Linked DNA regions of Homo sapiens: region 1 is linked to region 2. Evidence: fine-mapped expression QTL. A gene starts in region 2. The other region holds a variant in brackets. All regions are shown on one strand. Distances are from middle to middle. Region 1 holds the start of RHEX (regulator of hemoglobinization and erythroid cell expansion). Region 2 holds the start of CTSE (cathepsin E).

What was found.
Region 1: its variant is fine-mapped to the expression of CTSE in whole blood (TOPMed, PIP above 0.99).

Annotation. Positions count from the first base shown.
Region 1 is chr1:206,041,711-206,053,390 of GRCh38, reverse strand. RHEX (regulator of hemoglobinization and erythroid cell expansion) reads right to left here and starts at 218. Exons shown (of 6, transcript NM_001007544.4): 1 at 126-218. RefSeq lists enhancers at 103-162, 583-822, 2,186-2,685, 3,840-3,909, 5,639-5,808 and 1 more. The variant G/A (reference allele first, on the strand shown) is at 6,998.
Region 2 is chr1:206,016,971-206,028,650 of GRCh38, reverse strand. CTSE (cathepsin E) reads left to right here and starts at 4,756. Exons shown (of 9, transcript NM_001910.4): 1 at 4,756-4,927; 2 at 5,594-5,750; 3 at 6,384-6,501; 4 at 7,484-7,602. The coding sequence starts at 4,860.

The sequences.
Region 1 (11,680 bases), 25 kb before region 2:
CAAAGTATCACACAATCTAAGTCAAGTCAAAACCAGAACAGAAGTGCCAATGCAGGCATGTCGTGGGTGATCAGGCCACACTTCCACCTAGATGGAGTGGGGCAAGTTCCAAAGACTAGTCTTACCAAGTTTCAGATGTCCGGACTCCAAGTGCCAGTTCCTTCCCGGTGTTCAGCCACTGTGTTAATCCTCCACAGGGAACTGCTACACGCTGCTCTGGTGAGGCATTCCACCGGGGCAATTTCCTACCCGGGAGTGCTCTTTGGATCGCGTCACTCGGGCTGGCCGGAGTCCGCCTCAGGGATGCTCCACAGGGGAGGCCTAAGCCGCCTAAGGGGCTGCCTCGGCTGTCCATCAGTTACCTCGTTTCCTGGTCAGGGAACCAAGAAATGTAGCAGGACGAGCCGCAGACAAAACCCCTCAGACACCAAATTGTAGAAGGAAGGGCTTTATTCAGCTGGGAGCATCAGCAGGCTACTGCCTTAAAATCCGAGCTCCCCGAATGCACAATTTCCGTCCCTTTTAAGGGCTCACAATACTAAAGATTTCACATGAAAGGGTCATGATTGATTTGAGCAAGCAGGCGGTATGTGACAGGGGCTGCATGCACCGGTGGTCAGAGAGAAACAGAACAGGGCAGGGAGTTTCACAATGTTCTTCTATACAATGTCTGGAATCTATGAATAACATCAGTTTCTAAGTTATGAGTTGATTTTTAACTACTGGGTTTAGGCCAGGCAGGCCCAGGCCTGGTTTCGGGCCTGGCGCCGGACTGCCTGTCTTTGGTTTTACTTCCTTGTTGTTTTTCCTTAAAACAGGTACTGAGTATAAAACAATATAAAACAATATGAGAGGGTCTCTCTCTTCCCTCACAGTGACCTGGGTCTCAGACACTTCCTAACTGTGATCTTAGGACAAACACTTAGCTTTTCTGAGCCTCATCTGTGAAACAGACAGAATATGAATGCCTACCTCATGGAGTTGTTTAAGAACTCAGTGATCAGACTATTATTCAACAGTAATAACGAGCCAGGCCCAGTGGCTCACGCCTATAATCTCAGCACTTTGGGAAGTCAAGGCAGGAGGACCGCCTGAGCTCAAGAGTTTGAGACCAGCCTGGGCAATATAGCTAGACCTTGTCTCTACTTTAAAAAAAAAAAATCCGAAAATTAGCTGGGTGTGCTACTGCATGCCTGTAGTCCCAGCTCCTTGAGAGGCTGAGATAGGAGAATCACTTAAGCTAGGGAAGTCGAGGCTGCAGTGAGCCATGATCACACCATTGTACTCTAGCCTGGGTGACAGAGCAAGACCCTGTCACAAAAACAAACAAAGAAACAGAAGACAGGAATAACCACCATTTGTATTGTTCTAGTTTTCAGTTGGTCTTACCTGAGCAGAGTAATTGGGTGAGATTGTTCATGGAGGCATTGCTGGCTCTCTAGTCCTGGAACCTACAGTTGGTCCAATTCATTATGCCAAAGGGTCCGTCTAGGAGGTTCTTGTTCCAAGTATTGAGATTCCCGAGAGAAGTAGGTCCCCTTAGATAGAAGCAGAGTTTCTCAGAGGTATTTAGCAGCAGCTGGTGGACACAGGACTCAGGGAGCTGGCCCCCCTCTTCCCTTCCATGTCTTTCATTCCTGCATGGGAACCTGTCAGATGGGGAGATTGTTAAAATCTCACCACTGGAGGGGAGGGCCTCAAAGGCCATGGAGACAGCACCTCTCTCTTAGTGAAGGCATCTTCAGATAGAATTCAGCACAAATTCAAAGGTGGCTCCCCAGACCCTATCTGTCACATCGCCCTCTCATCTATTAGTATCTGAAGTCACCTTGATCATTTATTTGTTTACTTGATTATTGTCAGCCTCTCATCACATGAATGTGAGCTTCATAAGAACAGAGACCTTATCTGTTTTGGCCAACATTTCACCCCCAGTGTCTAGAAAGTGCCTCATGCAATGAATAGGTCCAATACATATTTCTTCAATAAATGAATGAATGAATGAATGCCAAAGACTCCTTCATAAAAGCCAGGGTCAACTGACCTCTGCCAGAATTTTGGAGAGCCTACACCACAGACTTTTGAACCTCTTAGCTGATGACAAATCTTTAGCCTTCGAAGCGGAAATTGATTTGAAAGAGCCCAAAGTACTCCGGTAAAGTAGGTGATGTTGAACTGGGTAATGTCAATTTCAGAAAAAGAGGACACGTGCCTGTGAAACACCAAGAGCAGTGTCCTGGGGTTGGGGAGGACACCTGCCTGGGTGTGGGTGGCCAAGGGGAAGAAGGAAGAGAAAGAGCAGGGGAAGATGCTGTCCCACAGCCACCACCACAGGTGTTCACCGGCCTCAGGCGCCAGCCCTGCTCAGGGTGAGAGGCGAAGAGGGAGGTGTGCTTAAGGCCAAATGAAAGAGGATCTGCCACCCTCTCCTCCCCCAACTCTTACCACATTCTAGCAAAGAGAGCTGCAGGAGCAGTCAGGAAATCCCCTAACAAGGCAAGCATTGGAACCAAGAGCCCAGGTGGCACGGATGAGTCACTTCACTTACTTGGACTCAGTTCCCCTATTTGTGAAATGAAGCAAGGATGAGAAGAGGAACAAGACGTGATCAAGAAAAAGGCAAATGTTTTCACAAGTGCCTGTCATTGCCCCCTTCTGTTGTCCCCTTCCACATGTCACCTGGTACATTGTACATTTCTTCTAACAATTGTGTTATTGGCCAGGAAATACAGAGAATTCTTTTAGAGAATAGGTTTTCTAAGTGTTAAAATTGTTTTTATTTTTAATTTTGTAAGGGGAGGACATCATCACCTTTTCAGTTTGGGACTTTTGAAGTGTTTGTTTCATTAGGTCACATTCAGATGGTTTTAGAATTCAAAAGGTACAAAAGGATAGTCCTGGAAAAGCTGCTCATCTGCTCTTGACCCCAGCCATCTAGTTCTCCTCCCTGGAGGAAACCAGCATGCCCAGTTTATTGTGTACGTTATGTGTACATGAGCAAACACACAGACACACAGAAACACACTCACCATACAGGCGTCTTCCTTACACATGACAGTGTACTACATACTTTGTTTTGCCTTTTGCTTTTTCACTTAATATATCTAGGAGTTAATTTATTATTAATACATACAGAACTTTCTCATTCCTTTCTTCCTCTTCAGAGTGTTCCGTTCTATGGTTGCTCACAGTTTATTTAACTGGTCATCTAGTAGTAAATTTAGATTGTTTCCACTTTTTACACTTGAAATGATGATGTAATTATTAAACTGCAACAAACATCATTTGCACAGGTGTAAATATGTGTGTAAAATTAGAGAAATGGCCATTAAAGTAGATCTGCCATCCCAGTTTTAGGAAGTCAGTATTCCTTTTTACAAATCCAAAATACAGTGTTACCCAATTTGACTACTCATATTATAATCCAGATTTCACTCTGGCTGTTTCCAAAAATCAAAGCACTCCTCAGAGAACAAAGATATGACATCACTGAGGATATTCAACAGAACTACCAATTTCTCTAAAGGCCGACCTCCAAGGAGAATCCAAACGCCTTCAGCAATAACAGCATCACTAGAGTGAGTATAGCATGTCCCTGGATGCTGATGATGGAGCGATAAACCCTCATGACACAGACATTTCCAAACAATTCAGGCAAAGTTTACTGAGTGCCAACTACATAGTCTGTTTAAAGCCCAGTCTGTCCTATTACACTGGTCTTTCAGTTTAAATAAATAAATAAATAAATATAAATAAATAAATAACCCAGTCTGTAAGGATGAATAGAAAAAGGCCTTGTCATCAAGAAACCAATGATCTAGGGAGCAGTTCTCAAAGTGTAGTCCAGGGACCCCCTGGGGGTTCCAGAGATCTTTTCAGAGGGTTCATGAGGTCAAAACCACTCTCTTAATAATACTAAGATACTAGTTGCCTTTTTCACTCTCAGTTTCTCTCAAGCATACAGTGGAGTTTCCCAAAGTCTATGTGACATGTGGTATGGCATGAGACTGAGTGCAAAGGCAGACCTGAGAACTCAGCTGTCTTTTATTGAGCTAGGTATGAATAATGAGATTTGCACATGCATAAAACAGTGCTTCTCTTTTCATTAAATTCTTCATGCTTTGGGAAATAGTTATATTTCATAAAAAGTGTTATGTTTAAGATGTAATGGCTTTGGTACTATTTTCTAAGGGGATTAGATAAATATTTTTAAATTTTCTTAGTTTTAATTTCTGATATGGTCAATATGAATAGATATAAACTACATAAACAATAGCGTTTTGGGTTCCTTAGTACTTTTTGAGAGTGTACAGGGGTCTGGAGGCCAAAGAGTTTGAGAATTGCTGATCTAAGGACCCATGGCATTTCTTCACCATAGGGCAAGAGAGGAGCATTTTGCCTTATCTGCCAAGAGTGTGCTATGCTACATCCAGGGGTGCAAGCCAAAAGATTCAGGAGGAACAGATTGGGTGTTCTCAAATAGCGATGTGTCAAGAGGACAGCAATTGCTTGGACACAAGAATTCCCCCCGGAGCCTGCTGGCTGGCAGTGCAGCGGCTGTGTAGAAAGGCTCTACCAGAGGGGCAAAGTCCAGGCATGAGGCAACAAGGAGGCTCTGAGGTTGGGGGAGCCTGCAGAAGAAGCGGAAGAGGAAGCTGGATAAGTCCGCCGCCCCTGGACTAAGCTGCTGACTACCTCCTGCTGTGATTCCAAGAGCCACTGCCTCAAAAAACTTCCTTGCAGGTGCTGGTGCCTGAAATTCCAGTGGAGGTGTTTCATTCCCTCAGCCAAAGGCAAATTCAATCCCAACAATCTCAAGTATCACTCAAGCTTACACAAGTGTGCAAATAACATTATGGAAGATAGATTCGAAGGTCACACTTTAATAAAACAAGAGAGTGTGTCTATAACAGGAGTGGGGTGGGATGGGTGGAGCGGACGGGAAATGGAGAACAAAGACTCAAAAATATGAAATAAATAGAACATAAGAGCAGTTCGTGGACCCATGATGTAAGAATGCCACTAGGGGGATTGATCAATCTGATTCTGGGTAGCTAAAATCAAAGAAAAAAAAATCCAATCCAGTCAAACTTCTCTGTAGCATATGGTATGTCCTTAGCAGCGTGAGACAGCTTACAAGGATAGAGAAGAATGAGACACGGGCCCTGGGTTCAGAGAGTGCTACCCCACGCTCACCCCCCACCCCAATTTAGCGAGGAAAATATCCGCGGCAACCATAGCAGCTGTAACAAAAGGTAGGTGTATAATCAAAGCTAAAAAGATGTACAAAGAAAGGGCTATTGGATCAGAAAGGAGGAGCAGGTTGTTTCTAACTTTAGTGACGAGGGAAGACTACATGGAGGAGGTGGCATTTGTTGTGGTCACGGATGTGTAGGAAGGATTCCTATGGCAGTGCTGAGGCTGTGGATATACCAGATGGGAGGGTGCTTGTAGTGAAGGCATGGCAGTTGGAATATCCAGCCATTTTTCCTTCGATGAACATCTGAAATCACTGCTAAGAGAGGGAGCATTGTACACCTGAGGGTGAAAGGAAGGCTGTCACCTAGGATGCAGAAGGAGGGAGGAACAGAACCTGGGAAGACAGAGGGCACGAAAGACAGTTCATGAACTTCAAGAGCCCAGTGGACTGAGATCATGTCTGATTTCACTTATCTCCCCGGCTTCTAGGCCAGTGCCTGGAACACAGCAGCCCTCAATAAATGCTCATTGAATGAATGAGAAGTTGGACACACTCCCTTTGCTCTTTTTCAGGCTGGCCACAGATGTGCTGCCGTAACCGAGTGGAGCCATATACTCTCACCATTTCTAGGACTTTAAATGTTTTTCTGGTTGCTTTTGCAGAATTTCATTTCTCCAAATAGAAACCCTGCGTCCTCTTGAGGTTTATTACAGAGGTATTTATTGGTTGGGGTTGCTTTAAAGATCACCATCAGGTTTTCATTTTGCACAGCAGCTTATTTGCAAACGTCAAACAGGTGTCTTAACATTTGGCATCCTAAGAAAATTAAACTGTCAGCCTCTTGGGCTCCTACAAAAGAGCACCAGTGAACATGTGAAGCCAGAACTGTCCACAGGTGACTTAACAGGAACTGATCCCATATTACCATCCTTTACTGGCTCTGCACATATCCTTCATTCAATTTAAAAACATAATAAAAATTTTTTTTAAGCAAGCACATTTTACTTACTTATTTGTTTATTTAGACAAGAGTCTCACTCTGTCGCCCAGGCTGGAGTGCAGTGGCGTGATCTCGGCTCACTGCAACTTCTGCCTCTCGGGTTCAAGTGATTCTCCTGCCTCAGCCTCTCGAGTAGCTGGGATTACAGGCACCCACCACAATGTCCAGCTAATTTTTGTATTTTTAGTAGAGACGGGGTTTTACCATGTTGGCCAGGCTGGTCTCAAATTCCTGACCTCAAGTGATCCACCGGCCTCGGCCTCTCAAAGTGCTGGGATTACAAGCATGAGCCACCGCACCTGGCCGCAAGCACATTTTTAACAAGTGCAAAATGGAAACCTTATGCACATCTTACGATTTCGTTGACGACTCAGAACTGGGGATATCTCGTGTGACCTCCGGTCAGCAGTTTAAAGGATGAGGCATACTTATCCCCATTTGTAGCTGAGGTAACTGAGTGATAAGTGAATTGCTCCAGGTCACAGTTAGCAAACAACAAAACCAGCATCCAAACAGAGGTCTCAAAATCCCTTAAACTACCTTTCATTTACTACACAGATTGTTTCTATATCATCTTTATTAGCTGTAATAACCACATAAATTTTGGAGTAGCTAAGGACAGTTGTTCAGGTTGTTTATTGCTCAAGGGCATGACATCTAAAGAAACTATCCAACCTGTAATCCCAGCACTTTGGGAGGCCAAGGTGGGCAGATAATCTGAGGTTGGGAATTCAAGACTAGCCTGACCAACATGGAGAAACCCTGTCTCTACTAAAAATATAAAAAATTAGCCAGGC[G/A]TGGTGGGGCATGCCTGTAATCCCAGCTACTCAGGAGGCTGAGGCAGGAGAATCGCTTGAACCCGGGAGGTGAAGGTTGCAGCGAGCCAAGATCGCACCATTGGACCCCAGCCTGGGCAACAAGAGTGAAACTCCGTCTCAAAAAAAAAAAAAAAGAAAGACAGAAACTATGCACATCACAGACATCATTATGTTGAATTTTTTTCACTTTTTTATTTAACTGCTAACTCTAAAGGTAGATGACATATTCTTATTAAAATAGTTTTCTGACAAATAACAATAAAATGTCTTCTCTAACAAAGATCCTTTTTTATGACAATTTTCTTTCAGATGGAAATAGATTTTCTAACAGGGTTGACATTTACTTCATAAGCTGAAGCAGAGAGTGTTTGACAAAGACCTTATTGGTTTAAGTAACGAGTGCCACAATAACTAGTGCTTCCAAACAAGGAGTTGTTTTCCAACTCTTGTTTTGATTTTTATCTAATTTTTTTTTAAATCCTGTATTAGTATTTGTGTATTGGCTAAATTTGAAGTTTTGCATTACAGTTCATATTGTCTGCCTGAATGGTAGCTCTGAATTCCTAATTTAGATCTACGGATTTTTATTATTACATAACTCACTTTTGTGGTAATTAATGATCATAGGCAATTATATATTCATAAAATAATTATTTTATATTCATAAATTAGAGACTATTATATCATGAATTGTGAATTGTATCATAGCTATTGTTTATGGGTTGTTAAAGAAAATTTCTTCAGGAGAAAAGCTAACTGCTGGTAAAGTTTCATGGCTTATTATATATATTTTTTAAAGTTTTAAGTTCTAGGATAAACTACTATTATGTTTTAATTATGTATATAGATATATACACATATATATATATATATATTTTTTTTTGAGACAGAGTGTCGCTCTGATGCCCAGGCTGGAGTACAGTGGCATGGTCTCAGCTCACTGCAGCCTCCGCCTCCCGGGTTCCAGCTATTCTCCTGCCTCAGCCTCCTGAGTAGCTGGGATTACAAGCATGTGCCACCACGCCTGGCTAATTTTTGTATTTTTAGTAGAGATGGGGTTTCACCATGTTGGTCAGGCTGGTCTTGAACTCCTGGCCTCGTGATCCACCCGCCTCAGCCTCCCAAAGTGCTGGGATTACAGGCATGAGTCATCATGCCCGGCCTTAATAATATTTCTTTAACATTTAATAAGCTAATATAATATTATTTCTCCCAGGATACTGATAAGAAAAAAAAATCAAACTAAAACTAGAAGATGAAAAGCTGTCTAGATAGAAAGTAAAGTAAAACTATTTGGATTATTGAATAAATTTAGGGAGAAATAGAGAGTTTAGGGCTGTTTGTTTCAGTGAATGTGTCACAGAAATGTGAGATGTGAATTTACCTTTTAGTTCCATTGTCAGAAATAATCGATGAATCTAAAAAAAAGTAGCTTTAAAAATGCAAAGAATTCAAACACATGGCCAAGTAGTTTGAATAGGAAACAAAGATGTACTCTTGCTGAAAATTATTCACCTCAAGTAAAAAATTTTTTATCTTTACAAAAGATAATACAGGTTGGAAGTTTTTGGAAATATAATGGACACAAATTTTTTCCAAATGGTGAGGAGAAATAATAATGACTAGATTCTGATTATTTTATTATACTTCCAAGGACTCTGTATTTTGCCAGCTCTTTGAGAACAAAAAATCAGCTGGAAAATGGGAAAGAATGCAAAGATTGTACAGCACTTGGCACATTTTTTTGTAAACATGAAGAATCTGAAATAAACATCAATAGGAATGCTAAGTATTCAAATTTCAAATCTGATTAGAAATATATAATTATTAATGCTGCAAAACAGATTCTATATGATGAGGAAAATATTACATTGAACAAAAAAACTCAATTCTGTTTTGGCAAGACAATATCTAGCATTCAGAGGATCATCTACAAAAATGTATAAGCAGTATAATAACAGGAATTTTCTTCATTTACGAAAAGCATAGAAGCTTAATAGAATTTACAGCAGTATACAAATATATATTGTATGTTTCAAATATGCAATAATTTGTATATATACAATATATATTTGTTTATATAAACATATACTTGTATATTATTGTACAAATATTATATACTATATATAAACACCAAATATATACCAAATATTATATACTATATATAAATATTATATACTATATATAAACACCAAATAGCATTTACACATTATGTAGCAGATGAAAAGCAAAACCAAATGATTAAAATATAGCAGATTTGTTGACTGAAGTTATTTTGAATCTTGTAAGAAGTGCTAAATATCACACAGTTAAATAACTTGAGGTACATTTCCTGATGTAAGCCACGTGGAACAGTTGACAATTATTTTTAGATTTGTACATTTTCAAAATGCAAATATATCTATATGTAAACATTAATTTTTTTCCCTACAGTAAATGATACAGCTGGAGAAGGATTATTTAGGTTTTTGGTTGACCACAACCATCACCAACAGAAGCACTGAATATAGGCTATAATGATTTGAGGGAGCAGATACAACAAAGATGAAAAAAATTTATGACAAACTTAATGGATTTCAGCATAGGTCCCCAAAAGATTCTAAGGCTGCCTTGCTCTGTCGCCCAGGCTGGAGTGCAGTGGCCTGATCTCGGCTCACCGCAATCTCCGCCTCCCAGGTTCAAGTGATTCTCTTGCCTCAGCCTCCCAAGTAGCTGGGATTACAGGCACACGCCACTGCACCTGGCTAATCTTCTGTATTTTTAGTAGAGAATGGCGGTTCACCATGTTGGGCAGGCTGGTCTCGAACCCCTGACCTCAGGTAATCCACCCACGTCAGCCTCCCAAAGTGCCAGGATTACAGGCGTGAGCCACCACGGCCGGCCAGGTTGCCTATTCTTTAAAGCCAATAGTGAATAAAATATTAAAAATTCCTGTCTGGGTGAGGTGGCTCACACCTGTAATCCTCTACAATCTGAAGGTCAATAGCAAAATTAGTTTTTTTCTATATTGGAAGCAATAATATCTCTTTAAAAGAGAGGCTTATAATAAAGAATATCTCAAGGTCTTTTCAGTATTCTAGATGACATGCATAAATTGAAAAATTATGACAAATATGAGCTTCTGCAACCATTAAAAATATACAATTGAAATTGAGAAACATAGGAGGAAGAGTGATACTGATGAAGCATTAGTGTAAGAGGAACTAAAATCCTGAAGTCGCTTTCTAAAATCTAGTTGATATGGCTGGGCTCACACCTGTAATCCCAACACTTTGGGAGGCAGGAGGATCGCTTGAGCTCAGAAGTTCAAAACCAGCCTAGGTAACATGGTGAAACACTGTATCTATACAAAATTTAGCCAGCATGTTGGTACATGCCTGTAGTCCCAGCTACTTGGGAGGCGGAGAGCAGAGGATTGCTTGAGCCCAGGAGGTTGAGGCTGCAGTGAGCCATGATCGTGCCATTGCACTCAAGCCTGGGTGACAGAGCAAGACCCTGTCTCAAAAAATAAATAAATAAGTAGATTAATAAAATCTAATTGCCTCCCATGAAATGCCTCAATTTATTTTCAGTAATAATATACCAGACACATTTTCCTAAAACCATCCTAGCTCTTAGGATACATTAACTTTGGTAGTATCAGCCAGCAGTGGAAAATGTAGATACTTTTAAAACAATTATAAAAAGCTACTTATCAAGAATGTCACAAGAAAGACTATCAATTCTAGTGACCATTTTTATAGAAAATAAGATACTGAGCCGGGTGCAGTGGCTCATGCCTATAATCCCAGCACTTTGGGAAGCCGAGGGGGCGCAGATCACCTGAGGTCAGGAGTTCGAGACCAGCCTGGCCAACATGGTAAAACACCATCTCTACTAAAAATACAAAAATTAGTGGGGCATGGTGGTGCACACCTGTAATCCCAGCTACTCAGGAGGCTGAAGCAGGAGAATCACTTGAACCCGAGAGACGGAGGTTGCAGTGAGCCGAGATTGCGCCACTGCACTCCAGCCTGGGTGACAGAGTGAGACTCCATTTCAAAAAAAAAAAAAAAAAAAACTGGAACAAGCAGGCATTAAAATTGACATAGAAAATGTTGTCCCCATGAAAATTATTTTATGACTAAAACTATCTTATGATGAATTGTTACATCCCAGAGACTTTCAAATCCTGAGTATTGTGACTAAAAACACTAATTTTCTATTATCTTGGATTTAATAATTTTATATATATAATTCATATAGAACCAACTTGTGTTTGTTTCATTGGGGTACCCCTTCCTTATCCCACACAGGTGCTGTAGGGGTCAATAGTAACCCAGCACCTTTTAGTGATTAGTTAAAAAGTGACTGCGGCAAGAGGACAGCTAGCAAAGCATCTGTTCTCTTCCACGCATGTTACCTCGTGCATGTGATTACTGTGTGTGAACCTGCCTGACAGTGGTTGCCTACTCAGGCATGAAAGGCCTGCCATGATCTGAGTCCTGCCCACCTCCCAGCCGTGCTCTCTTACACTTTATGCTGCAGCCAGCCTGGGCTTCTGGCAGTTTCTCGGTGCCCCAGGCTTGTTCTTGCCTGTGCACACTCCGCCCCAACCCTGCCTCCCCCTCCCTCACGGGAGGGCTGCAAGAGGCTCCCACACAGTGCCTGCAATCATAGCAT
Region 2 (11,680 bases):
AGGGATGCAGGGAGAGGTCTAAAAGATGGAAAAGGAGGGAGGGGTTATGGTTAGCCCCCTTTCAACAGTTCAGTGATAATGATGCTATAATTCTGTAGCAGAAAGTTTGCCCGCTTAGAAGTCAGGAGGGCTGAGTCCTAATCCTAGATCAGCCACTAAATGAACCATGTGCTCTTGGGCTGATCACTTTGCCTCTCTGCCTCAGTTTTCTCATTCTGCTATACAAGTGGGTTTGTCTTGAGAGTCTGTAAGAACCCTTCCAGCACTTCTGAAACACTGAAGTTTTTAGTGACAATCTTTAGTTCACATGACATGTTACAGTTTTTCAAGAACTTCCACATGCAAGCATCATTTGGAGCTACTGTGGGTTTGGTTCCAGACTACTGCAATAAAGTGAAAATTGCAATAAAGTCAATCACACAAGTTTTTTGGTTTCAAAATGCATGCAAAAGTTGTGTTTACCCTGTACTGTAGTCTATTAAGTGTGCAATAGCATTATGTCTAAAAACATCTTAATTAAAACATGCTTTATTGCTAAAAATGTTAACAATCATCTGAGCCTTCAGGGAGTCATAACCTTTTTGCTGGCGGAGGTCTTGCCTGGACATTAATGGCTGCTGACTGATCAAGGTGGTAGTTGCTCCAGGTTTGGGGTGGCCATGACAATTTCTTTCTTTCTTTCTTTCTTTTTTTTGAGATGGAGTTTCACTCTTGTTGCCCAGGCTGGAGTGCAGTGGCAGGATCTCGGCTCTCTGCAACCTCCGCCTCCCAGGTTCAATTAATACTCCTGCCTCAGCCTCCTGAGTAGCTGGCATTACAGGCATGCACCACCACACCCAGGTGTTTTGTATTTTTAGTAGAGATGGGGTTTCTCCATGTTGGTCAGGCTGGTCTCAAACTCCCGACCTCAGGTGATCTGCCCGCCTCGGCCTCCCAAAATACTGGGATTACAGGCACGAGCCACAGCGCCCAGTTCTTAAACTAAGAAAACAATGAAGTTTGCCACATAGATTGACTCTTCCTTTCTTGAAGATTTCCCTGTAGCATATGATGCTGTTTGATAGCATTTTACTCACAGTAGAACTTCTTTCAAAACTGGAGTAATCTTCTCAAACCCTACTACTGCTATCAACCAAGTTAATGCAATATTCATAATCTTTTGTTGGCATTTCAACAGTGTTCACAGCATCTTCACCAGGAATACATTCCATCTCAAGAAACCACATCCTTTACTCATCCATAAGAAGCAACTTCTCATCCATCCAAGTTTGATCATGAGGTTGCAGCAATTCAGTCACACCTTCAGGCTCCACTTCTAGTTCTCTTGCTATTCCCACCACATCTACAGTTACTTTCTCCACTGAAGTCTTGAACCCCTTAAAGTTATCCATGAGGATTGGAATCAACTTCTTCCAAACTCCTTTTAATTTTATAGTTTGATCTCCCATGAATCATGAATAATCATAATGGCATCTAGAATGGTAAATCCTTTCCGGAAGATTTCCATTTACTTTGCCCAGATCCATCAGAATCACTATCTATGGTGGCTATAGCTTTACAAAATGCATTTCTTAAATAATGAGACTTGAAAGTCAAAATTATTCCTTGATCCAGGGGCTGCAGAATGAATATTGGGTTAGCAGGCATAAAAACATTTATCTCCTTATAAATCTCCATCAGAGCTCTTTGGCAATGAGTTGCATTGTCAATGAGCAGTAAAATTTTGAAAAGAATTTTTTTTTTTCTGAGCAGTAGGTCTCAACAGCAAGCTTAAAATATCCAGTAAACCATGCTGTAAACCAATGTACTGTCATCCAGGGCTATGTTGTTCCACTGATACAGCACAAACAAACTCTATTTAGCATAGTTTTTTAGGGCCCTAGGATTTTCAGAATGGGCAAATGAGCATTGGCTTCAACTTAAAGTCACCAGCTGCATTATCCCCTAACAAAAGATTCAGCCTGTTCTTTGAAGATTTGAATCCAGGCATTGACTTCTCTCTAGTATGAAAGTCCTAGATGGTATCTTCTTCCAGTATGAGGCTATTTTGTCTATACTAAAAATCTGTTGTTCATTGTAGCCACCTTCATCAATGATCTTAGCTAGATCTTCTGGATAACTTGCTGCAGCTTCTGCTTTGGGACTTTCTGCTTCACCTTGCAGAAATCTCCATAGGCTTCACGTTTTCTTCTGCAGCTTCCTCACCTCTCTCTGCCTTCATAGAACTGAAGAGTGTTAGGGCCTTGCTCTGGATTTGGCTTTGACTTAAGGGAGTGTTGTCACTGCTTTGATCTTCTATCCAGACCAATAACACTTTCTCCATATCAGCAAGAAAACTATTTTGCTTTCTTATCATTTGTGTGTTCCCTGTAATATCACCTTCAATTTCCCTTAAGAACTTTTTCTTTGCATTCATGACTTGGGTAACTGTTTGGTGTAAGAGGTCTAGCTTTCAGCCCTTCTTGGCTTTCAACATGGCTTCCTCACTAGGCTTAATAATTTCTAGCTTTGAATTTAAAATGAGGAACATGCAAATCTTCCTCTCACTTAAACACTTAGAGGTCACTGTAGAATTATTAATTGGCCTAATTTCAATATTGTTGTGTCTCAGGCAACAGGAAGGCCCGAGGGGGAGAGAAAGAGAGGGAGAGAGAGAGATGGGGGAATGACCAGTTAGTAGAGCAATGGAGCAATCAGAACACACAATTACACTTATTAAATTCTCTGTCTTACACGGGTGCAGTTTGTGGTACCCCAAAACAATTACAACAGTAACATCAAAGATCACTGAGTACAGATCACCAAAACAGATAAAATAATCATGAAAAACTTTGAAATATTGCAAGAATTACCAAAATGTGGCACAGAGACACAAAATGAACACACAGTATTGGAAAAATGGTGCTGATAGACTTGCTTGACACAGGTTTGCCACAAACCTTCAATTAAAAAAAAAAAGCAGTATCTGCAAAGTGCAGTAAAGCAGAGTGCAGTACAACAAGTATATCTGTACCTTATTTTGTTTGTTTAATCCTCCTTAAAAACCCATTGATGTAGGTAAGGTATTTGGCAGATGACAAAACTAAGGTATGTGGTGAATAAGCAGTTACGGGCAAAACATGGCAGAGTTTACTGCCAAAATGAATGATCTCCACTTCTAGCCACTTCTGACTCAAGCTGCCCTTCTAGGTTTAGACCACTCTCCCCAGTGAAAGATCAACAAGACGGGCTCCTGGGAAATGCCAAAGAGGCTTTGTTGCCTTGGGTTCAGGGGTCAAAGGTCTAGGCTGTTCCTTAAGTCTTTTTGATGTCTTTTTTTAACATTTTTGGACCCAAGGGTGGGTTTGGCTTAGCTCCATACTCCACGTTTGCTTGCCATTTGAACTTCAGAGATGAAAGGCAGATCCCATAGCACTTAAGAGATTTTCCAGAACACTAGCTGGTCAGGGCAGAGCTAAACCTAAACGCAGGCCATCTACTTCCTACTGCTGAGCTAGTGCCCTCTGGAAGCATTGGCATATGGTGGTGGCCTCTGCTGCCCTGGCTAACTTGAGTCAGGGTCAGGGTCTTCCTACCTGTAACCCCTTCATCCCCACCCCAGGCACTGAAGCCCCACCATCTGTTTATGAGGCGGGTGGCCACAGAGATAGGCTGATGGTGAGGGGGTTTCACACACTGCGGTAACTAAGGCCTGAGCCCCACCCACTCTCCACCCCTGCGCTTAGTCCCACTTGACAGATAGAAGATCCTATTGTCCCTGAGCACTGTTAAGGGCTGAACTTTGTCCTCCAAAATCCATGTTGATGTCCTAACACCTAGTACCTCAGAACGTGACTGTATTTGGAGATAGGGTCTTTAAAGAGGTATTAAGGGTAAACGCAGTCATTAGGGTGGGCCCTACTCCAATATGACTAGCGTCCTTATAAGAAGAGGAAATGTGGATGTGGACACAGCCACACGCTGAGGGAAGACCCATGTGAAGACACAGAGAGAAGGCAGCCATCTGCAAGCCAAGGAGAGAGGCCTCCGAAGCAACCAAGTCTGCCAACACCTTGATCTTGGACTTCCAGCCTCCAGAATAGTGAGAAAATAAATTTCTGTTGTTTAAGCCCCCTGTACTTTGTCATGGCCGCTTTAGTAGACTCATGCGGGCACTTGCTGTAGACGCTGACCCCCTTGACCCTCCCTCGCTGCCCCTGCATTCTCCTCCACACACCCCTGAGCCCCAGCCCCAGATTCATCAAGTCCTTAGAGTCAGGAGAGTGGGCTCCATAAATCTGCAGCTACATTTTCCCATTTCAGGGCCTTTGAGGAGTGCTGGTTTGTGCTTCAAAGTGGGCCAGGGAAGGATAAACTGCCTTTGGAGCATTTGAGAGATTGAGGAGAGAACAGGAATCACCCAGAAAACAGACTGACGAATATTTTGAGTTAGAATCCTGCCACCCATGACAAGTCAGCTCCCACCCCTCCAGAGTCTCCAGCTAGAGCACTTGCAGTAAGAGTTCAGTGGGCCTTTCCAGGCAGCCAGGCATGTGCTGCCCTCCGGATTCATTAACAGGGTTTCTTGGGGTCAGAGGAGGTGCCAAAGCCCTGAGAGAAGCCAAGCCCCAGAGGACTCCCAAGTTCTCCCCGCAGACTCATATTCCTCTTGTAGGTGGGAAAGGGACGGAGAGGTGCAGGGGGAACGCCCTGTTCCACATGCCGTATTTACTCTGGGCATGGCTAATGACTCCAGGGCCTTATCATTCGGCCCTCAGACTGGGCTGGGCAGGTCTGAGAGTTAGGGAAAGTCCGTTCCCACTGCCCTCGGGGAGAGAAGAAAGGAGGGGGCAAGGGAGAAGCTGCTGGTCGGACTCACAATGAAAACGCTCCTTCTTTTGCTGCTGGTGCTCCTGGAGCTGGGAGAGGCCCAAGGATCCCTTCACAGGTGAGAAGACGTCCCCGCACTGTGTTCAGCTGGGTAGTCCCATGCCCTGCAACTCAGGGCTGCTCTGGGGTAGGAAAGCTGATGGGGAGGTGAAGAGGAGGAGAAGCTGAGGGCTTGCGTCAATGCATGGAAGAGACTCATCCAGTGACCGCCTGTGTATGGCCTTAATCTCCAGTCCTCAACAAGTCATCCTCCTGCCTCCACCTCCACGGAGGTGCCTTCCCAAGTCCCAGGGGTCTTCTTGTGTTGCAAAAGAGCAGGAACCTGCAGTTGTGGTTTGTAGCTCAAAGCGCCCCAGGACTTCCCCAGGGGACTGACCATCACTGTCCCCAAGAGTTTTTCTGTCCCTTTAAATCAGCCCTTCGTGATGTTCATGTAAAACTGTAGACCGCCCCACATCTCCCATTTTCCTAGATCTCAAAGACCTCAGCTCCAGGAGGGGAGCCATTTCCACTCTAAGATTCTAAGACTCTATAGGGCAGAGATGAGGCCGGGCAGGCTGAGTGGCAGAGAGGACGCTGATCCCACCTGTATCCTGCGTGCTGTCTTGCAGATCCCCCCCTCCCACCCCATCTTCTCTAGTTGGCCCCTGAGAAAATGGGACGAGAATGGGGGGAAGAGGGAGGCAGAAGTACATCTCCTGCTTACATGGGGGTTTGTCTCCAGGGTGCCCCTCAGGAGGCATCCGTCCCTCAAGAAGAAGCTGCGGGCACGGAGCCAGCTCTCTGAGTTCTGGAAATCCCATAATTTGGACATGATCCAGTTCACCGAGTCCTGCTCAATGGACCAGAGTGCCAAGGAACCCCTCATCAACTACTTGGATGTGAGGCCTCCTGGGGTCAGGGCTGGGGAGAGGTGGGAGCGGGAGGAAGGCCCAGCATTAGGGCATGGCCAGTGCCACATCAGTAGCACCGAAGGCCATTGTGGATTTCTTCACTTGGATGATGATCCATGGGGACTGATTCCCTGGGTCCCCATGGAGTTGGCTAAGCAGGCCCCCATGTACCCAAATGTCAGAGTTCTCTGCAGAAGGAAAGGGCTGGGAGTGAAAGCATCATCCCACACTGAAGGCCCCTGCTTCTGCTCTCAGCTGGGCAGCTTACTGGCTGTGTACCCTTAGGCAAGTTACTTAACCTCTCCCAGCCCCAGTTCCCTGGTCTGTAAAACAGATGGTTCTTCCTCCACTGCCTCTCCTACAATGTATTTATAAGAATCAGGTTAGTGCAAGTAAAATCAAATGAAGTAGCCAGAGGCTTGGTTTGATTTCCTCCTTCATGGCCATTTCTCTGCTCCTTTTACCTTTTATTTTCCAGCGTTGCCACTTCCTAGGCTCTGTAAACTCCAGTCTGTATTACCCCAGGCTCTGGCCCCTGGGAGCTTTCCCCTGGCTTCCTGGTGAGCACCCTTGTCCCTCCCCACCACCCACACCCTCTTTCCTTCTCACTCTTCCTTGCAGATGGAATACTTCGGCACTATCTCCATTGGCTCCCCACCACAGAACTTCACTGTCATCTTCGACACTGGCTCCTCCAACCTCTGGGTCCCCTCTGTGTACTGCACTAGCCCAGCCTGCAGTAAGTGGGGCCAGGAGCACCAGCAGAGAATGTCTGGGGGCTAGTCCTGGGAGGCCAAGCCTGGTACTCTGGGGAAGGGGGGCTTAGGTTCCAGAAACTGGCCATCCCTGCCACACCAGCTTCCACTCTCCATCTTTGAGTCAGCCGTGGAACTGCTTATAGCAGAGATAGAGCAAAGCCAAGGAAGAACTAAAATGTGGCTGCTGTCCAAGAGAGTAACTTTCATACTGATCAGAATTAATAGAAAGAAAGCCATTGAAAAGAGAAATCTTTGACATAATGACTCACTTCCTTTGGAACACCCAAAGGAATGTAGGGGAAGTTTAATTTAATTGGTTATTTCTGAGCAGGGAGGTGAGTCGGGTTCTAGTGTAGATAGTCTGCTTGTTTCAAGGAGGCTTGGTAGCCTTATCTCCTGGTGCACACAGGTGGGGCTGGTGGGGCACAATGGCATGGGTGGGTCCATTTGTCCAGAGGTAACTCAGAAGTTTCAGTGAGGATTGGAAAAGAAGAGCTACAGAAAGATGTCTTGTTCGATACAGGACAAGTCCCAGAGACAGAATGTCTCTGGAAACCCCAAGGCTAGAGATGTCCATCGGTTGGGAGAAAAGTTGGGAGTAATTTCCTGGGGCAATTGTTTATCCCTGAGTTTCTTTTGAAGCCAACCTCTGACCCACAATGGGTGGCAGGGACTGTGGCTGGCGCCTGATAAATGACACTTATCTTGGTGTGCCTCATGAGGTCATTGTGGACAATCAGGTTTGCTCAGGGATAGCTATTTGGTCCCCAGTTAGGCCACATCTGTAGCTAGAGGGAAATGTAGTTGTTCATTAGGGAGGGGCATCACCAGGCTTCTAGGGGCCCCCACTCAGTGTTGAGAGCTGAGGGAAGAGACCCTGCCGCTGTGGGGCTGGGTGGCATTAGGGCAGGGATGCAGCCAGTGAGCCGATGGCATAAGCAAGAGCAGTGCACTTCTTTCCAGAGACGCACAGCAGGTTCCAGCCTTCCCAGTCCAGCACATACAGCCAGCCAGGTCAATCTTTCTCCATTCAGTATGGAACCGGGAGCTTGTCCGGGATCATTGGAGCCGACCAAGTCTCTGTGAGTGCAAGTCCTTCATTTTTTCTCTCTTGGACAGAAACTTGGGAGACTTATTCAGAGGTCTTACATTTCAAATCTGCCTCAGGAATGGGTGGAAACAGGGGTTAGCACTAACTTCTAGGAGAAAGGGCAAGCAACACTCCCCACCTGAGATGGTGGCAGTGGGTCAGTCTCCACAGCACGCTGGGCCCTGGGGGAGAGCAGCACAGGGGGACTCTGGCAGGAAGCAGTGCCCAGTGCACAAAGCCTGGTGGCAGGGTGCACAGCTGGATCTCCAGTCTCTAGGGCATTGAGGAGATAAAACCACGTCTCCGTCTTGAAGGATAAAGAAGTCCACACCAGGGGGAGAGATTTGGACTCAGTAACATAAGGGGGCAAGGTCTGAAATGGGAGTCCAATCACAGAGGCAAGGCAGAAGCCCAGTTGTCCAAAGGCCAAGGTCCAAACTGAACTCAGTGCTGAGCTCATGAGCTGTTCCTCAAACTCCCTCTGACCTCTGACCCTCTGACTCCCTCTGAAGTCCTATGGGTCCTAGAACTATGGGAATCAGACAAATGTGGGGACAGAGAGCCAGGTACTTTTTCAGGCTTATAGACAGCAATATATGCCTGGGCCTTGGGAGAAAGAGAGGTTGACCTACTCCTGGTGAACGTTGGTCCCTGGGGTATTCCCGAGGCCAGCAGGGCACAGCCTTCATCAACATCCCTTAGAGTGGGTGGAGTAGGACATATTATCAACTGAAAGAATGCCAGAAGCAGAAAAACACCATCTATGTAAAAATATCATACAGATAAAACAATGTACTGTATTTTCTATTGGAACTATGTATGCGTGTGTATACACACATTACATATATAATATATAATATATAATATCCATATATGAATATATGTAATATACAGTATATTTGTATATATAATATATATCCATCTGTATATATTATATAGATACAATATGTAACATATTAAAGTATATAATAATTGCATAATTATATCATATAATACATGTTATATATTATATAATTAATATAATATGTAATACATTACATTAATATATGTTATATAATATATAATATATTATAGAATATAATTGATATAATGTATTATATTAATAATATAGTATGTGTTATATAATATATTAATATGTTGTATGTAATAATATATTACATAATATATTATGTTAATCTATTATATAATAGATTAACCTATTATATAATAGATTAACATAATATATTACATAATATGTTAATCTATTATATAATAGATTAACACAATATATATGTAATGTGTATATATTATGTTATATATAAGATTCTATATATATTATGACATATACATATATATTATATATCTAATTACATATAATATATATATAAAAGTTAAAATGACTATTTTGAAGGCTACATCCCTAACTGATCATCACAGTAACCTCTGAGATGCAGGGAAGGGACTGAAATTAGCATAGAAAGGGGAATTCAAGCCTATAGCTTGTCACGTATCTGTTGGCTCACCTGGCTGGTGTAGGGCAGCAGCCAAGCCCACAGCAATGTCAGCTGCATTGCTCCTTCCCTCAGTTTTTCTGGCTCCAGGACCAGGTGTGCACTTACCTCTAACAAATCATCAGCTTTTGCTGCATAACATCCCCATCATTGAGGCTGGAGACTTGGGGACAGTGAGAGAACAATGTGGGTTCCAGTCCACCCTCACCCTCATGGGTTCCAACTGGCCCTTTTTCTCCCACTTGACATCTATCTTCCCTTTCTGCTGTGCAAACTGTAGACTGCTGCTGCAGCATCAGGACAGAAACAGTATCCTAAAGTACACTGTTTAACTAGCACCCACAGTTGCATATAATCAATATCTATATCCACATCATTATAGCTATATCTATAATCTATAGTACCTCCTAATGGTTCTGCTTCTCTTATCAAACCCTGACTGACATAATAAAGATATGACATGTGAAAATTTGTAGATGAAGCTGATGCAGCCCTTAAAGGGACCATTTAGCCTAAAATGCATGCGTTGTTAATAGAAATGCTAATGATCAATTATCTAAGCTCCTATTTCAAGAAATGAATAACAAGAAAATGAGCAAACCGTAAACAAACAATAGCAAATCAAACCCAAAGAAATCAAAAGGAAGGAAATAATAAAGAGTAGAATGGGACACAAATGAAATAGAGAAATCACACAGTACAGAAAATTAACAAAGCCAAGAATGAACTCTTTGCAAAGAGTAATAAAATTGGTTAGCCTCTCACATGACTAAATAAGAAAAAAGAAAGAAAATACAACTTAACAATGTTAGAAATGAGAAAGAGAACATTAGTAAAGTTATCAAGAATAATTTTATATTGATAAATTTTACAATTTTCAGAAAATCAACAAATGCCTTGAGAAATACAGCATACCAAAACTGATGCAAAAACAAAAAATAGAAAATGTGAATCTTTTAAAGATATACTCTGTTATTAAAAAATCTTTCCACAAAGAAAACTCCACGAAGAAAAGCCTCACTGATAAATTCTCTCAACACTAAAAAAAATCAGTCTTTCACAAACTCTTCCAGATATTTGACAAAGTAAAAACACTTTATAACTCATTTTATGAAACCAGCATAACTTTAATAATGAAACTTGAAAAGGACATTATAACAAAAGAAAATATAAAATTACAGACCAATCTCTTCTCTCATGAATATAGATGCAAAAGTTCTAAATGAAATACTAGCAAATAAAATCTTTTGGTATATAAAAAGATCATACCAAGGGTCATCTTTCCAGGAATTTATCATTTAACAGAATAAAAGGAGAAAAATCATATGACCAATATGATTATATTAGTAGGTTAATAACATTCAATATCTATTCATGACTTCAAGAAAAACTCTTAGCAAACTAGGAGTAGAAAGTAACTCCCTTAATCTGATAAAAATGAAGGACTTCATCTAAAAGAAGCCCACAGCAAACTTTATACTTAATGGTGAATTGTCGAGAGACTTCTCCATAAGATCAAGAATGAGACAAGGACACTCAATCTCACCACTTCTATTCAACATTGTACTGAAAATCCTAGCCAGTGCAACAAGGCAAGAAAAAAGAAATAAAGAACATTAAGATGGAAAAGGAAGAAATAACTCTGTCAATATTAATGTATGACAAGATTCCATAAGTAGAAAATCCAAAAATATCTACAGAAAGGATATTGGGATTAATATGTGAACTTAGCGAAGTTGCTGGATATGAGGTCAACATAAAAAAAATCATCTGGGGCCAGGCACAGTGGCTCACGCCTGTAATCCCAGCACTTTGGGAGGCCGAGGCAGGTGGATCATGAGGTCAGGAGTTTGAGACCAGCCTGACCAACATTTCTCTACTAAAAATACAAAAATTAGCCAGGCGTGGTGGCACACGCCTGTAGTCCCAGCTACTCAGGAGGCTGAGGCAGAAGAACTGCTTGAACCCAGGAGGTGGAGGTTGCAGTGAGCCAAGATCATGCCATGGCACTCCAGCCTGAGTGACAGAGTGAGACTCTGTCTCAAAAAAAATCATTTGGATTTATATATACAGGTTATGGATCCTTATCCCAAATGCTTGGGACCGGAAGCCTTTTAGATTTCAAATTTTTTCAGATTTTGAAATATTTGCATTATACTTACCAGTTTAGTATCCCAAATCTGAAAATCCATAATCTGTAATGCTCCAATGAGCATTTTCTTTGAGCCTCATGTTGGCACTCAAAAAGTTTTGGATTTTGAAGCACTTCAGTTTCAGATTTTCAGATTTGTGATGCTCAACCTGTAGCAAGTAAAACAAATGGCAAATAGATTTTTAATGACACTATTTATAATACTATCAAAACCATCAGCTACTTTGATGTAAATTTAACAAAAAATGTGCGAGAACTCTACTCTGATAATAGCAAACATTACTAAATAAAAGTAAAAGACTTGCATAAAAATCACAAACATTAATGAATAAAATTAAAAGAAGACCTGTATTGAAAACTAAACCATGCTCATAGATTGAATGACTCTGTTTCATTAAAAAGTCAAATTTTTTCAAATTGGTCTATAC